Regions from separate parts of the Homo sapiens genome. Here all the other regions are reported to be linked to region 3. The links are microRNA targets in miRTarBase. Many come from high-throughput screens and were not tested one by one. Region 3 holds a microRNA gene; each other region holds the end of a gene's coding sequence.

Region 1 (3,351 bases), not on the chromosome of region 3:
CCATTCATCAGCCAATCATTATAGTCCTTTACTTCTCACTAAACCTTGTTGCTACTTCTCTTCCTTTGAAAGGTTATTTCTAACCAGGGCAACCACATACTTTATTGGCCAAACCAAATCACTTTTGAAAGTGTCTCAAGGTGAGGTGCCATTAATTATTACACTGAGACAACAGGCATAAACTGGGACTCTACTGGACAAGTCAGAACTCATGATCATTCTAGGAGCCCCCAAACTCACCTTCATTCCATTCCTGCCCAAAGATGTAAAAATGATCCCACCTCCTTTTTCCCATTAGGTGCAAGATTTGGTTCCTAATGTGGTCAGGGTCCAAGCATCTCACCCTTTATTCTTCTGCTTCACAGGTCAGCCTTACTTTATACCATAAGGAGGAGCTTGAATAACCTCCAGGATTTGGCTCATAATCCAGGCCTCTCTCCACGTGTGCCTGATTGATGCTCCAAATTGGCTTCCACGGGCCAAACCTTGGCTGTTCCAGAAACTGAACCCCAGGAATTGCTTACACACTTTCTTCCAGCGTAGCATCTCTTCAAACACAATGCTCTTCCCCTTGACCACTTCTCAGTATGAAACTCTATGTCTTCAACTTTCAGACCCCCCATTTATTTGTATGAAGGCTTCAGTTGCCTTAATAAAGTGCTCTGTGGGGTCCGATCTCTCCGAGGCTGAATAATTCACATCTGCAATATGCTGATATTGACATACACTCACATCTCTCTATATGCAATTTTCAGAGAACAAAAAGCCATTGCATTTTCTGGTGACACCAAAAAAGGGAGAGAGTATGAAAATCCTGCAAATTGAGAATGCTAGTGACATTGTTACTTTGGTAAAGTTGTCGTTAAGATGCTGAAGAATGGAGCCAGTGCAGATCCAGATTTTGTATGGTCTAAACCTGATAAATGAGGAGCTCCTTTAGAAACCAAGCACAGGCTGGGCACGGTGGCTCACGCCTGTAATCCCAGCACTTTGGGAGGCCAAGGAGGGCGGATCACCTGAGGTCAGGAGTTCAAGACCAGCCTGACCAACGTGGAGAAACACCATCTCTACTAAAAATACAAAATTAGCCAGGCGTGGTGGTGCATGCCTGTAATCCCAACTACTCGGGAGGCTGAGGCAGGAGAATTGTTTGAACCCAGGAGGCAAAAGTTGCAGTGAGCTGAGATTGCACCATTGCACTCCAGCCTGGGCAATAAGAACAAAACTCAAAAAAAAAAAAAAAAAAAAAAGAAAGAAAGAAAGAAAAGAAAAAAGAAAGAAACCAAGCACAAATGAGTACAAAAGAGAATATTATTTCAAATGAGGAGGGAAATTGCAACCAGCTGCAAATTTTTAAAGGCTGACAAACAGTAAAAATTGCACAAAACCCATATAAATTAATAATTCATTGTTTACATTTATGACCTCAATTCTGTAAAGCACTATTTCTGTGGAGAGAATGGAAAGATAACTTTTTATTTAATGTGGGGATCAAAATATGATATTTTAATTTTTATTATAGGTGAATTGGATAAAACATGTACCTGAATGCTTGAAGCCATGCTTGATGTCTGCAGTTCTGTTACAGGTTTGTGTCCTAGAAACACAGGAATTTTAATAAATTATCTTTTGTACAACTCTATTAAAAAAAGAAAAAATGCATGGTACATTTAAAATTGTACATATTGAATTATCAAGTATATGCTTACTACAAAAGAACTTCTGAACAGGCTTCCATAAGAGCTGATTTTTTTTTTCTAATTAAAATGTGATGTATCTGACCAGACTCAGTGGTTCATGCCTGTAATCCCAGCACTTTGGGAGGCCGAAGGGGGCAGATCACCTGATGTCAAGAGTTCAAGACCAGACTGGCCAACGTGGTGAAACCCCATCTCTACTAAAAATACAAGAAATTAGCCAGGTGTGGTGGTGCACACTTGTAGCCCCAGCTACTCAGGAGGCTGAGGCAGGAGAATTGCTTGAACCCGGGAGGTGGAGGTTGCAGTGAGCCAAGATCGTGCCATTGCACTCTAGCCTGGGCGGTGGAGTGAGACTCCATCTCAAAAAAAAAATTGATGTATCTGATATTTGAAAGAATGCTACACAGGCTTGTTTTCCTGGCTCCACACATTTCAAAACTTGTTTCTCCTCTACCACCCGCAACCTTCTTGGGCTAAGAACATTCATTTTACAGTGCAACCTCTAGTCCCATAACTTAGTGTCATAACATCAAGGGAATAGGCCCAGTAGAAAACAGGAGTATTATTTGCAGCTGCTTCTCCACCAGGACAGCTAGCAGCAACTTCCTACACATACAAATGACAGCTAACGACCTAAATATATTCTACTAACTCCAAAATAAATATATCCCCAACTCAACTTCCTTTTAATTTGCATGCCTAAAATGCTGGCAGTCGCCCAAACACCACCTGACCTAGGAGAAGTGTGACAGAGGGAAAGGTCAGAGTGGAAAGGGAAGGTGGATTGGCGATTATGGTTAGAATATCTTACTTTTGCAGATATTACAAGTCATCTGACCATGTAAACATATAGCTAGAAGCACTCCCAGAATCTTAAAAGGGGCTCGCTCGAGCGAGGACCCTGAGGCTTGGCTCCATCGACCTCATGGTAAGTCCGTCTCTGAAAGGGCTCATGGACTTGTTTACTGGAGTTGTAGTAAAGAAGACAGTTCCATAGTATGGTGCAGAAACTCCAAAATTGAAAATAGCTGGACAGGCATGAAAGGGGGAGATGGAGGAAAGCAGAGAAGAGTTAAAGAGGAAGGGAGAAGAAAGGGGTGAAGGAGGAAAAGACACTGGATGGTGTGACTGTTTTAAAGCAAGGTCCTAAAATTCTTTCACTCACCTTCCACCTAGAAGTGGGATCTATGTCCCCTCCTTTTGAATCTGAGAAAACTCTGTGACTGCTTTGACCAAGAGAATAAAGCAAAAATGATGCTATGTGACCTCCAAGGCTAAGCTAGAATAAGTGCAAGTCCCACTTGATCCTCTTATGTAGCTTGTTTGGGGGCAGTGGGAAACTGCCATGTAAGATGTCCAACTACTCTGAGAGAGGCCCATGCTAGAGAGACCCATGTGGGTGCTGTGATCAGCAGGCCCAGATAAGCTCTGACTGATAGCCAGCATCAATTTCAGCCATGCAAATGAGATGCCCAACCCAATAGAGCCTTCAGATGGCTGCAGCCCCAGCAGACATCTGACTGCAACCATGGGAAAGACCCTATAAAAGAACCACCAAGCAGATTGCTTCCCAGATGGCTGACCCACAATATAAAATGGTTGCTTTAAAGTGCTAAGTTTTCAGAAAATTTATTCACAGAATAGGTGATCA
Region 2 (3,234 bases), not on the chromosome of region 3:
CCCCATCTCTACTGGACTGGCTTCTCTTTGAGGGGCTGAGCACAGAGCGGGTGTCCATATTAGAAAGCTACAATTAATTATTATTATTATTATTATTATTATTATTTTTAGAGAGAGACAGGGTTAGCTCTGTTGCCCAGGCTGGAGTACAATGTTGTAATCAGCTCACTGCAGCCTCGACCTGCTGGGCTCAAGTGATCCTCCCATCTCAGCCTCCTGAGTATCTGGGAATACAGGCATGACACTAGCTTTTTTTTTTTTTGAGATGGAGTCTCACTCTGTCACCCAGGCTGGGGTGCAGTGGCGCCATCTCGGCTCACTGCAACCTCCGCCTCCCAGGTTCAAGCAATTCTGCTGCCTCAGCCTCCCGAGTAGCTGGGACCACGGGCGCGCACCATCACGCCCGGCTAATTTTTTGTATTTTTAGCAGAGATGGGGTTTCACTGTGTTAGCCAGGATGGTCTCGATCTCCTGACCTTATGATCTGCCCGCCTTGGCCTCCCAAAGTGCTGGGATTACAAGTGTGACCCACCGTGCCCGGCCAATTTTAAAATTTTTTTGTAGAGACAGGGTATTAGTAGGTTGCCTAGGGTGGTCAAACCTTAAGTGATCCTCCTGCCTTGGCCTCCCAAAGTGCTGGGATTACAGCTGTGAGGCACCATGCTTGGCCAGGATTTGGTTTATTTTAGTATTAGAGACAGGGTCTTGCTGAGTTGCCCAGGCTGGAGTGCAGTGACGCGATCATAGCTCACTTCAGCCTTGAACTCCCGGGATCAAGTGATCCTCCAGCCTCGGCCTCACAAAGTGCTGGGACTACAGGCATGCACCACCACTCCCAAAATTCAGGAATTTTTTTTTTTTTTTGAGACAGAGTCTCACTCTATTGCTCAGACTGGAATTCCATGGTGCAGTCTTGGCTCACTGCAGCCTCCACCTCCTGCCTCAGCCTCTCAAGTATCAGGGACTACAGGCACGTGCCACCATGCCCAGCTAATTTTTGTATTTTTAGTAGAGACAGGGTTTCACCATGTTGGTGAGGCTGGTCTGGAACTCCTGACCTCAGATGATCCGCCCGCCTTGGCCTCCCAAAGTGCTGGGATTACAGGCATGAGCCACTGCGCCCAGCCCAAAATTCAGGATCTTTAGGCTCAGACCATAGCAGGACTCCAGTCTTAGTCCCAGTTAGGTGAAGACTAAGAGGGCACAGAAATGGGATTGGGGTGCAGGGGGCAGGAGTGACCCAGAGTGCATTGAGGGTGGGAGCATGTGGCATGTGGGACCTGCCTCTCTCCATAGGTCCCAGATGGGTTTGGCGGCTGTAGCTTCAAGACTAACAGGACCTGCTGGACCATTTGGGATGCAGATTTTGGAAGGGAAACTGAGACAAATTCTTTATTTTCTTTTCTTTCTTTTTTTTTTTTTTGAGATGGAGTCTCGCTCTGTTGCCCAGGCTGGAGGGCAGTGGCGCAATCTCGGCTCACTGCAAGCTCCTTCTCCCAGGTTCATGCCATTTTCCTGCCTCAGCCTCCCGAGCAGCTGGGACTACAGGCGCCCGCCACCACGCCCGGCTACTTTTTTGTATTTTTAGTAGAGACAAGGTTTCCCCATGTTAGCCAGGATGGTCTCGATCTCCTGACCTTGTGATCTGCCCGCCTCGGCCTCCCAAAGTGCTAGGATTACAGGTGTGAGGCACCGCGCCCACCTCCTCCCTCCCTCCCTCCCTTCCTTCCTTTCTTTTTTTCTGAGACAGGGTCTTGCTCTGTTGCCCAGGCTGGAGTGCAGTGGCATGATCTCGGCTCACGGCAGCCTCTGCCTCCCGGGTTCAAGTGATTCTCCTGCTTCAGCCTTCCCAGTAGCTGGGATTACAGGCAGGCACCACCACACCCGGCTTTTTTTTTTTTCTTTTTTAAATTTTTAGTAGAAACAGGGTTTTGCTGTGTTATCCAGGCTGGTCTTGAACTCCTGGTCTCACGTGATCTGCCCGCCTCAGCCTCCCAAAGTGCTGGGATTACAGGCGTGAGCCACTGCGCCCAGCCCAAACTGGGACAAATTCAAGCTTTATGGTCACATATGAATGCAAGGCATGGCTCTGTGCAGTCTTGGGTCAGTGAACCTCTCTGAACCTCCATTGTTCCACCTGTAAGATGGGGTCCTTCACAGCTCCTACCTCACAGGGCTGTGAAAACATCGTCCTTGTTGGGCACTTAGTAAGTTAACTCGTGCTTTCACCTGGCAAAGGTTTATTGCCTTAGTGATGACAGAATGAGCAAAGTCACGCTTGTTAAGGACCCCCCCCTCCCCAACTGTGCCTGGCACTTTGCCAACAGCACAGGACTCAAGACCCATTTCTTAATCACATGGCAGTTGGGAGGTAGATTCTGCTGTTAGTCCCCTTTGACACACACAGAAATGGAGAATGGGCAGCAGGTGTGATGTTGGAGGAAGACCAGGGCCCAGGGGCGGGGGCTGCAGCAGTGACCTGGTGACCCAGGGCCTGGGCAGGACTGGAGGCCAAAGGACTGGACTTTTAGGCTATTGCAGCCCAGGTAAACGAGGCTCTCATTGGCAGGGCCTGGCTCCCCACCAGGCCGGCAGGCAGATAGGCGGGCGAAAGAGAAGGCAGTATCCCAGGGCCCAGCTCAGATCTTCTCCACGTAGTTTCCTGGGAAAAGGCCCTCCTGGCCGTGAAGCCGGCCCTTCCACCAGCCCGAGGGATCTGTGGGAGAGAGGAAAGCTTGAGGTGCCCCTAGCTGGCCCTGGAGAAAGCTCTCATGCCTGGTCTGTCCATCTTGTTCATGGGGACTCCCTATGTTGTCCAGGCTGGTCTTAAACTCCTAGGCTTAAGCCATCCTCCTGCCTCAGCCTCCCAAAGTGCTGGAATTACAGGTGTGAGCCACTGCATCCGGCCATTTCTACTCTTTAAAAGTTTTTTTTTTGTAAATCTTTTGTAGAGATGGGGTCTTGCTAGGTTGCCCAGGCTTGTCTCAAACTCCTGACCTCAAGTGATCCTCCTGCCTCAGCCACTGAAAGTGCTGGGATTACAGGTATGAGCCACCTCGCCCATCTGTTATCTCTGTTCTCCCGTGGGGAGGGTGTGCAGTGGTGGGGTCTGCCTGGCAATGTCAGTCAGGGTTCTTTTTTTTTTTTTTTTTGAGACGGAGTCTCGCTCTATCGCCCAGGCTGGAGTGTGTTGGCGCAATCTCGGCTCACTGCAAGCTCCGCCTCCCGGGTTCA
Region 3 (3,000 bases):
TCCAAACCTTGGCTGCGAAACTTCAGTTTTTCTGTGCATGAGTTTCCTCGTCTGCAGAGTAGGGGTGCTAATAGTAGCTCTCTGCTATAGTTTGGATATGTTTTGTTTGTTCCCACCAAATCTCATGTTGAAATTTGATCCTCAGTGTTGGACGTGGGGCCTAGTGGCAGGTGTTTGGGTCATGGGGGCAGATCCCTCATGAATAGATTAGTGCCCTCCCTGGGGCGGGGCATGAGTGAGTTCTCACTCTATTTGCCCCCAACAGAGCTAGTTGTTAAAAAGAGCCTGGCACCTCCCCCTTTCTCTTCTTCCTCTCTCGCCTTGTGATTTATGCACATGCCAGCTCCCCTTCACTTTCTGCTAGGAGTGGAAGCAGCCTGGGGCTCTCCCCAGATGCCCAACCTTGAATTTTTTGAGACATCAGAATCATGGGCCAAATAAGGCTTTTTTCTTTATAAATTACCCAGACTTGGGTATTCTTTTCTAGCAACACAAAATGGACTGACACTGTCTTATAGGGGTGTTGTGAGGACTAAATAAGTGAGTGTATGTGGAGTGCTGAGCACTGTGTTCTGAGCTGAAATAGTCAAGTCCAGCAGCTTGGATGGACAATAAGTCAGGTTGTGTGCTGAAAGCCAGGCAGTGGACTGTCTCCCTGGGTATCAGATGCTCCCTATCAAATGGGAGCTGCAATACTTGCCTCAGAGGGCTGATGAGGATGTAAAGGAGATCACATCAGTTAAGCGCAGAAGCTGAGCAGGTACTTACAAAATCAGTTGTCTCAAACTTAGCTGCATATTAGAATCTCAAGGAGCTTTCCACCATTTGAATCTTCTAAAAAGCTTTGTTGTTATGATATGTATTATTTAAAAATATGTTTATTTTTGTTTCAAATAATTTTAGAGTTACAGAAAGGTTGCAAAAATAATACTGAGAGTTCATATAACTTTTATCCAGCTTCCCCTAATGCGGATTTGCATTCCTATGGTCCAATTATCAAAAGTAAGAAATTAACATGAGTATAATGCTCAGCTAAACTACAGGCATTATTGAGATTTTACCAGTTTCTCTACTAATGTCCTTTATGTCCTCCAAGAACGAATCCAGGTTCCCTTTGCATTTATTTATCAGGTGTCCTCAGTCTCTAAATCCATGGCCGTTCCTCAGGCTTTCCCTGCATTTCATGACACTTTTGATGAGGACTAGTCACGTATTTCATAGAATGTCCTTCACTTGGGGTTTATCTAATGTTTTCCTGTGCTTAGATTGAGGTTATGCATTACTGAGAAGGATACCACAGAAGCCATAGGCCCTTCCCAGAATCTCATAACAGGAAGTATGTGATGTCCATACGTCTTATTACTGGCAATGTTAACCTTCATCACTTGGTTAAGGTAATGTCTGCTGGGTTTACCTATTGTAAAGATAGTATTTTTCCCTTTGTCATTAATAAATAACTTGGGAGAGATACTTTCAGGTTATGCAGGTAGCCTATTTCTCCTCATCTTTTTCCCCATTAATGTTCTGTTCATTTGGTGCATCTTGCCTGCGACAATTACTGCAACGTTCTGAGGATGGTTTCCTAGTCCCTCATTTTTTCTACATTGTTTATTGGAATTTTTCTGTCTTGAAATGCTGTTTCTTCTCCTCCATTTATTTGTTTATTTATTCAGTTATTTATTGAAATTATCATGGACTCATGGATATTTATTTTATTTTATTGGTTTTATAATCCAATACTGACATTGTTTATTTTGGTTCAAACCTAAGACACTTTCTAAAATACCTGTGCCTGAGTTCCTCTCCAAGTCATCCGAAGCAGAGTCTATGGGGTTGGAGCATAGGTATTTCCTTAAAGCTCCCCAACCGCACTAAATGTTAGTTCCCTCACTCTCCCCACCTGCTTCCTCTAAAAAGAAAAAAAAATTCTTCCTCAAATCATTCTGCAGGGCTTGTTCTCAAACTGGCTGTCAGAGTGTGCATGGCAGGCTGCAGCCACTTGGGGAACTGGTTCTGTGGTTATCTCCATTCCTGCCTCCCCAGCCCGCATATCCTTTCCTTCAGCTCACGGGGCCCACAATGGGAACTTGAGTACCAGAATTCCTTTTACAACTGCTTCCTCATGTGGAAATTCCGCTGAGGTTTATTGTAGTTTTCACTGAGGTCAGGTGAAGGAAGAAAAAAACTAGGGCAGTCTTTAGAAAGTCAGGTTTGAGAAAAGACCCAAGGAAGTATGACCTTCAGCTAGGAGTGTCTTTCTAAATGGCATAGTGAATTTAGTGAATTCCAGCTGATGGCAGGCTCACAGCTGGGGTAGATGTTCCTGCAGTTTCCAGCGCTGCCTTCTGAGTCCCAGAAAGCACTTTTCTGCTGCTTGGACAGAGTTTTAACATGTGGAAACAACTCGCTTACATGAATAACTTATCTTGACACCTCTGAAATCACAGTAACCAAATATGTAAATTTAATTCTCTTTTTAGGGGATCAATATGGAGTCAGATAAGTTTTTTTTCCAAAGAGATGGTCTTCCTGAATAAGGAAATTGATCCTGTAGCATCTTTAGCTGGTTTCCAATTGCCCCCTACTCCTAGGTGCCGAATCAATCTTATGATATTTTTAGAAACCTAACTGTTTCTTTAGTCAGATTGATGCCAATAAAATGTCCAAAACTTAGATGAATCAAATTTAAAGTGATTTGTGATGGAATAAAAGCTTAACCCCAAGCATACCATGGCAACATGAAATTGGCATGGTTCCCCCAAATTATGCCATATGAATATGGGAAGATATGTCTCACAAATTCTTATTTTTTTCTTCATAGTGGTCAGCTTCAACCTGAATTTTTGTTAGAAGGCATTTTTTGTGTTAAAAACACCTTCTATTAAAATTTTAATGGGATTCCAATTTCTAGGGTAAGTAAATTAATAAAATCTGCAATAACTAGTCAGGAAAGGATCCAGTGTTTCACTACAGAACATAGAGATAATTCCAAGACGGGCA

The links. Region 3 holds the annotated microRNA hsa-miR-7156-5p (UUGUUCUCAAACUGGCUGUCAGA, at 1,953-1,975, shown strand). A microRNA usually pairs through its seed, bases 2 to 8, with sites in the 3' UTR of a target mRNA and lowers its output. Matches are read on the target gene's strand: a 7mer-m8 pairs with bases 2 to 8, a 7mer-A1 pairs with bases 2 to 7 and ends in A, and an 8mer does both.
Region 1: the mRNA of WFDC6 is a reported target of hsa-miR-7156-5p. The part of its 3' UTR that is shown has no 7-base or 8-base seed match.
Region 2: the mRNA of MYO1F is a reported target of hsa-miR-7156-5p. The part of its 3' UTR that is shown has no 7-base or 8-base seed match.

Annotation. Positions count from the first base shown.
Region 1 is chr20:45,531,520-45,534,870 of GRCh38, reverse strand. WFDC6 (WAP four-disulfide core domain 6) reads left to right here. Exons shown (of 3, transcript NM_080827.2): 3 at 366-675. The coding sequence ends at 404. It overlaps LOC107987282 (a long non-coding RNA gene), which reads right to left. Exons shown (of 4, transcript XR_001754641.3): 2 at 1,545-1,597. Among named protein-coding and RNA genes, the nearest start is that of WFDC6, 6.3 kb to the left of the region's middle.
Region 2 is chr19:8,518,889-8,522,122 of GRCh38, forward strand. It overlaps MYO1F (myosin IF), which reads right to left. Exons shown (of 28, transcript NM_012335.4): 28 at 1,890-2,716. The coding sequence ends at 2,640. Among named protein-coding and RNA genes, the nearest start is that of ZNF414, 6.3 kb to the left of the region's middle.
Region 3 is chr1:77,058,191-77,061,190 of GRCh38, forward strand. MIR7156 (microRNA 7156) reads left to right here and starts at 1,953; the gene lies at 1,953-2,012. The region is part of intron 4 of ST6GALNAC5 (ST6 N-acetylgalactosaminide alpha-2,6-sialyltransferase 5); the gene reads left to right.